Homo sapiens: one gene and its partner. The protein of the gene in region 2 purifies or fractionates together with the protein of the main gene of each other region. This does not show direct contact. Each region holds a gene or a part of one and is shown on either strand. Other genes may lie near its edges.

Region 1 (3,502 bases), on a different chromosome or scaffold from region 2:
CATAGTGGTCCAGCAGTTTTCTGCTATAGCACATTACCACTCCATCGGGAATTAATTATACACATATTTAACTCTCAGTGATGAGTACCTATCCTATGCCAGGCCCTATGCTGGATGCTTTCATACACTTATTTAACTGAGGATTGACATAAGAATATCTTTTAAATTAAAATAGGTTATCAATTCAAGGCAAAAACTACAAACTCATTATAATCAATTTTGGGAGGACTTTGTCCTAAAAGGAATTTCAGGTAAGAACACTTTGAATCAGTGGGACCACTCAACTTAAAGACTGTCTACTCTTTTCCCAACATGCCTTCCTCCCCAGAACTCAATTTGGATTTGCTAGAGTATCTAACAATACTTCAACACTTGTTAAGCTGCTGGTTTTCCTCTGTTTTCTCTCCTTCTAAAAGACATTTCTCTGAGTTCTGCAGCAGGAACAGAATCTCAGCTAATTTACTGTCTTCACTGAACGTTACCACCACCCACCCCTTCCCTTCCAGGTGCGGCAAAGAGGAAACAGACACAAGGTGGTCTAGAGGTCCATTTCATTTCAATGAGTGTGACAGCCGCTCTTCTTGGGGCCTATGGGGGAAAGGCATTGGTCCGTGGTGGGAGTGAAGCTGCTCCCACAAGATGCATTCCCAACTGGATCAGGAAGACCTTCAGATTTAGGGGAGGTCTTTGTGGAAGTCTTTAGTGGAGTCTTCCCCTGCCCGCTAGATGTCCGGTCGGTTTTAGCCCGCGTTGGCTACTGGATGGTCCGCTGTGCGGGCTTCTTGGGCTCCTGCTTCTCTTCCCTGGGCTTGGAGCTTCGCCTCTTGTCCTTCCCTGACCTCGGCGTGGTGTCTTCCTTCACGGCCTGTCCTCGCCCCTCGTCTGCCGCTGTCGCTCCCGCTTCCTCCTTGGCTCTGGCACACGGCGGCTCCTTGGCTCTCGGCCTTGCCCTCCTGGTCCTCCTCGCCCTGGCATTGGCCTTGGCTTTCGCCCTCGCGTTCCGTCTCCACACTTCTCTGGCCTTCCTGGCCGCCTTGCGAAGGGGCTGGCGGCGCCTCCGGGAGCTCCGGGGCGCGGCTGGGGTCCTCCAGGGAGCGCGCGTGCCCTCCTCTTGCCTCGCGCGTCCCGGCTTTCTCCTGGGCTTGGGAACCTTCCAGACCCTGAAGTAGCCGGCGGCGTCGCTGCCGCTGACCCGGAGGAGCGTGGCCTTGGCCTGCCCCCTGGGCGCTTCGTGGCGGCCGCTCTTCCTGCGCACTTCGTAGCCGGCGTTTCGGAGCTCCTTCTTGAGAGCTGCCAGAGTCAGCCCTTTGTGAGTGGAGATGGCCTGGAGCACCAACTGGGACACTCTGAGCACGGAGCTTGAGCAGCCCCTCGATGGTCCCCCGACAGTTTTTTCCGCTGGCAGCTGAGTGGCTGAGTGTCCTCGGGATTCGCCACTGGGCCCAGGCGCCTCAGCCATGGCCCCACTCCCGCCTCTGCGGGGCCACCGGCTTTGGGCCTCACCAGTCAAGGCCTGTTCCATAGCTGAGGTAGACTGGGCCACGTCACAAAGGCAGGCCTGGCAGAGATTTTCAGGTCCTAATTATGGGGCTGGCATATCTCACCCGGGGAGGGGCCCTTTTCACTTATAATAACCAATCAAATGCCACTTCCTTCTAGGTCTAAACCAATCCAAGTCTTCAGCGCCTGTCCACCCCCAACAGTCACCTACCTATAGAGTCTCCAGGGTTTTGTTCCCAAATCAAACTTACTGATCTCGATCTCCACCGCTTTCTTTAGTCGGCTATTTTGTGTGTGTATGTGGTCCTGCAAACCATCTACCCACAGTTCCTTAAGGTGAGCGAAGCTGCTCCCAACTATCCAAAACAAGCAACACACTGCCTGTAGAAAGTACACGGGGTAGTCCATGAAACACAACCCAGATTAGAAACTCCCACCTTTAATTCCACCAGTCAGGTATCTGAAGTCATGTCTCCCTAATTCTACACAGTGGATTCTGTGCAAGAGCATGAAGTAAAAAAGGAACCAATTGTGTGATCCCTCTACCCTAAACACTGATTCCCACACCTGGGAAATTTAGATGACGCATTCAACTGTACTGAAACAATCTAGATTTCACATCGCCTGAGGATACTGGTCTAATCATTATTCTTTGAACATACTGTGTTTTTTTCCATCTCATCCCCTCTCTTGGATTTCTCATCCTCTTTGTCTGCCCAGATAAGTCCTGCTCATCTTTCAAGGTACTGCTACATTATCCTTCTTCACTGAAGACTCCCCAAACTCTTTCAAATGATTTCTTGCCTCTTAACTACCACAACCACCAAAATTACTTCTGCAATCTTATATGGCTTTTTCTTTATTTTAAATGAATTTGGCATTAGAGGGTATAATGTGACACAATATTTTTTAAAAAGAAAAAAACTCGTACTTGGAGCTGGAAGATATGGATGCATATCCTAGCTCTTTAGGAGCCATATGACATTAACAAATCCCTTAATATCAGTGGTGTGGCTGTCAGATGGATGTGCCGGCCATCTGACTTCTTATCTAACATCACATTCCCTTCCTACCAACATCACAGAATTATTGCAAAATTTCAGAAGAGGTAGATGAACAAGGGCTACCTAAATATAAGGAATAAATTTACTTTACTTTGAATGTTTCTGTCTTGTATTTCCAACTAAATAAAGATATCCTCAAGAGCTATAGTCTTTGAACTTCTATGTCCCATGCTGCACCTAACAATATGCTTCATTATACACAGCGGGCATTTAATTGAGCCTGCTTACATCATTCCTCTCTGGTGAGGAGAGTTTCTCTAGATTCAGAAAGAAACTTCCAGAAGATCAGGAGAAAGGAGCAGAGTGAATTTCAAAGGGTTGGAAATGAAGGGGGCCAAGTAAGGATTAGCTTATCAAGGACCTATTTTGGACACAGTTTAGTTGGGAATAATTTAAAGTATTATTCTAAGAATACTTCAAATTGCCAAGCATATCATACTTTTCCAGAGGGCAATCACATACATTCATCAGTCACAGGCTAGACAGTGACAGTTTCTTTTAAAAATCAAAGCTCCAGGAAGTAGCTTAGACCAGTGCTTTTTTTTTTTTTTTTTGAGACAGAGTCTTGCTCAGCCCAGGCTATGTAATGGCACAATCTTGGCTCACTGTAACCTCCACCTCCTGGGTTCAAGCAATTCCTGTGTCTCACCCTCCCAAGAAGCTGGGATTACAAGCATGTGCCACCACATCCAGCTAATTTTTTTTTTTTTTTTTTGAGACAAAGTCTCACTCTGTTGCCCAGGCTGGAGTGCAGTGGTGCAATCTCGGCTCACTGCAACCTCCGCCTCCTGGGTTCAAGTGATTCTCGTGCCTCAGCCTCCCAAGTAGCTAGGATTACAGGTTCCTGCTACCATGCCCAGCTAATCTTAGTATTTTTAGTGGAGATGGGGTTTCACCAGGCTGGTTGGCCAAGCTGGTCTCAGACTCCTGACCTCAGG
Region 2 (3,674 bases):
TGAGACCATTTCTGAAAAAAAATGAAAAAAAAAAATTAGCTGATAGCCAGGCATGGTGGTTCATACCTGTAACCTCAGCACTTTGGGAGGCTGAGATGGGCAGATCACTTGAGGCCAGGAGTTTGAGACCAGTGTGGCCAACATGGTAAGACCCTTTCTCTACTAAAAATATAAAAATTAGCTGGACATGGTAGTGTGAGCCTGTAATCCCAGCTGCTGGGAAGGCTGAGGCACAAGAACCAATTGAACCCAGGAGGCAGAGGTTGCAGTGCAGTCTGCAGTACAAGATTGTGCTATTGCATTGCAGCCTGTGGGGACAGAGTGAAACCGTGTTTCAAAAAAAAAAAAAAATTAGTGGGGCATAGTGGCACTTGCCTGTCATCCCAGCTACTTGGGAGGCTGAGGCAGGTGGATGGCTTAAGCTGGAGGCTGCAGTGAGCTATGACTGCACAACTGCACTCTAGCCTGTGTGACAAAAAAATATGAACAAATACATAAGTCAGGTGACTAAGGGGTCATCTTTATGCCCTGTACCTTCTCTCAGCAACCTCCATCCTATAAGAAAGGGGCAATTGGCCAAAGTATGCCTCTGCTGTAGTTGTAGATTACCATGTTTGCACGATTATCATTGTCAATGCTTCACATTTACACTAGGGCACTATGATTTTCAATGCAGTTTCCATTTTTATTTTGGAGGCCCCTCCCACGAACCTTCTCCCATTTTACTGAGGCCCAGGGAGAATGCACAGGGAGCTGAGCCCCTCCTTTGATCTTAGTTTGGTGGCAGAGACAGGCAGTGATACTGACGATGTGATGGCAGTGTCAGGTGCACTCTGTCTTCACTAGAAAACTGGCCTCCTGGAAGGGCTGGAAGCTCCCACCCTTGACTGCTCTGACTCTGTCTCCAGCAGCTCTTCGCTGTTAGGGCTTCCCTGACAAGAGTGCAGTCCCTCTCGAGGCTGATTAGTGCAGGGCGGGCTCCTCGTCTCCGACCACCGGCTCCTGCTGGCTGTTCCCTCCACCCTCCGTCTCGGGCTGCGAGGCTTCCCTTAACACTCGAAAGGGGGGCCCGTGACCAGGTACGACCACGTCGGCAACGACCAGGACCCTCTTCCGGCTCCGCTCCTGGGCTGCGGGGTCTTCACTCAGTGCCTGCCACGAATCCTCGTCCCCATCTCGCTCAAACACATCTCCCGCCACCACCACGGTGCCCAGAGCCGTGCCGGCCACCACCACGCTCACGTCGCGCTGGCCCCCGTGGCCCGGCGTGGCCCACACCTCGAGCCCCGGGCCCAGGCGCAGGGGCTGCCCCTCACCCAGCCCGTGGGGCAGGTAGCGGCCTCCGGGAAGGCAGAAGTCGTGCGAGACCAGCAGAGCCGCGCCTGGGAACAGCCCCAAGTTCCCGATGTGATCCGAGTGCCCGTGGGTCCCCACCACTAGCGTCACGTCTCCCGGGGCCACGCCCTGCCCCGCCAGCGCCCCCAGCAGCGCCTCCCGAGCCCAGGGGCCCCCGGTGTCCACCAGGATGGGGCCACGGGCCGCCTCCTCCAGGGCGGCCTCTGCGCCGCCACTCCCGCGCGGGGACTCTCGGTGGCTGGAGGCCGGGCCCCGGGTCTGGGGTAGGACCAGGGTCACGGAGCCGTCGGCGCGCACGGCATCGCCCACACCCTCTGGCTCCGCGTAGCCCTGCAGCAGAACCACCACAGAGTAGGGGTCGCCGGGCACCAGCAGAGGGGATGCCCCGCACAGCGGCTCGGTCCGCATGAGGCTGCTCCTGGCAGGGAGGGACGGGCTGGGGAGAAAGGAAATGGAGCAGTGGGCGACCGTCCTGTCCCTCCGCGATCCCCCACCCGCGCTCGGCCCCGCCACTGCCCCTAAGCCTCGGTTCTCTGCCACCCGCCTCCCATTAAGTTGGTATCACCCTCAACCCCTGCCCAAAATGGTATCGCCCAGACTCCCTTCACACTTGGGCCCGCCCCTCCCTCGGCGTCCTCGGCCCCCGCCCCATTCCGTTCGCGGTACGTACGTCCTTGCCCGTCACCCTCCAAAGGCTATCCTTTATGTTTCCCTCCATCGAATCCTAGCCGCGCTCTACCTTGGGCCTCTGCTAGGTCTTGCCTCACTCGAAGAAAGCGCAGAAATCGAAAACGCGGGTGAGAGTTTGTCCTCTGCGGTTCCCGTGTACCCAGATATGGCGGCCGAAGCGGCGCCGCGGAGGTAGCTGTAGTTCCGGCGCCTTCACCGTGTGCCCGAGGAGGCTGCCTGGCTGGGCTCCAGCCTCCTGGCGGTTCTCCGCTCCGCAACCCCAGCAACTTCTTTGCACTGCAGAATTTTGAAGCGCCATTAGCTTTGAGGAGGGTTCATGCTCAGTTGCCCAGGCAGGAGTGCAGTGGCGCGATCATACCTCACTGCAGCCTCAACCTCCTGGGCTCATGTGATCCTCCCGCCTCAGCGTCCCGAGTATCTGGGACCACAGATGCGCACCACCAAGCCCAGCTAAGGTTTCTATTTTTTCTTTCTCTTTTTTTTTGGAGACACGGTCTAGTTCTGTTGCCAGGACTGGTCTGGAACTCCTGGGCTCCAGCGATCCTCCAGTCTTGGTCTCCTGAAGTGCTAGGATTACAGGTGTGAGCCACCGCGCCTGGTCTTTTTTTCTTTTGAGACAGTCTCGCCCTGTCGCCCAGGCTAGAGTGCAGGGGCACCATCATAGCTCGCCCCAGTCTTGAACCCCTGGTTCTAGCGATCCTCCTGCTTCAGCCTCCTGGAGTGCTGGGAATACAGGCGTGCACGCCCCTCTAAATTTTTTTTGGTTTTTTTTGAGACGGAGTCTTGTTCTGTCGCCCAGGCTAGAGTGCAGTGGCGTGATCTCAGCTCACTGCAACCTCCGCCTCCTGGGTTCAAGCGATTCTCCTGTCTCAGCCTCCCGAGTAACTGGGATTACAGGCGCCCACCACCATGCGTGGCTTTTTTTTTTGAGACGGAGTCTCGCTCTATCACCCAGGCTGGAGTGCAGTGGCACGATCTTGGCTCACTGCCAGCTCCGCCTCCCGGGTTCCCGCCATTCTTCTGCCTCAGCCTCCCGAGTAGCTGGGACTGCAGGCGCCTGCCACCACACCCGGCTAATTTTTTGTATTTTTAGTAGAGACGGGCTTTCACCGTATTAGCCAGGATGGTCTCGATCTCCTAATCTTGTTATCCACCCGCCTTGGCCTCCCAAAGTGCTGGGATTACAGGCGTGAGTCACCGCGCCCAGCCGCCCGGCTAATTTTTGTATTTTTGGTAGAGACGAGGTTTCTCCATGTTGGCCAGGCTGCTCTCGAACTCCTACACTCAGGTGATCCGCCTGCCTCGGCCTCCCAAAGTGCTAGGATTACAGGTGTGAGTCACTGCGCCCAGCCTCCAGGCTGGTCTTGACCTTTTGGACTCAAGTGATCCTCCCATCTCCACCTCTGCAGTAACTGGGACTACAGGCGCTGCACCACCAGCCCTGCAGTCTTCTTTGTGTGTGTGTGTGTGTGTAGAATTGGGGTTTCACTATGTTGCTCAGGCTGGAGCTTGAGCTTAACAAGACAGCGGCCATTCTGGGTGCTGCCTCATCGACCAGCTAGCTATGTGTGCCCGGCTGTTGTTTGAAACTTTGGGCCCAGCTAGTTTTTAGAAAAAAAGAAAAAAGT

Evidence for each region.
Region 1: the proteins of MBLAC1 (region 2) and H1-7 purify together in Homo sapiens (affinity purification with mass spectrometry; 2 studies listed by BioGRID and IntAct, with this or other methods). This does not show direct contact.

What each region holds. Positions count from the first base shown.
Region 1 is NC_000012.12:48,327,312-48,330,813, reverse strand, and holds H1-7 (testis-specific H1 histone), read right to left. Parts: upstream 1,835-3,502; 5' UTR 1,523-1,834; coding exon 755-1,522; 3' UTR 535-754; downstream 1-534. UniProt on the Homo sapiens protein: Essential for normal spermatogenesis and male fertility. Required for proper cell restructuring and DNA condensation during the elongation phase of spermiogenesis.
Region 2 is NC_000007.14:100,125,486-100,129,159, reverse strand, and holds MBLAC1 (metallo-beta-lactamase domain-containing protein 1), read right to left. Parts: upstream 2,194-3,674; 5' UTR 2,096-2,193; exon of another isoform or gene 1,989-2,095; intron 1,793-1,988; 5' UTR 1,765-1,792; coding exon 964-1,764; 3' UTR 665-963; downstream 1-664. UniProt on the Homo sapiens protein: Endoribonuclease that catalyzes the hydrolysis of histone-coding pre-mRNA 3'-end. Involved in histone pre-mRNA processing during the S-phase of the cell cycle, which is required for entering/progressing through S-phase.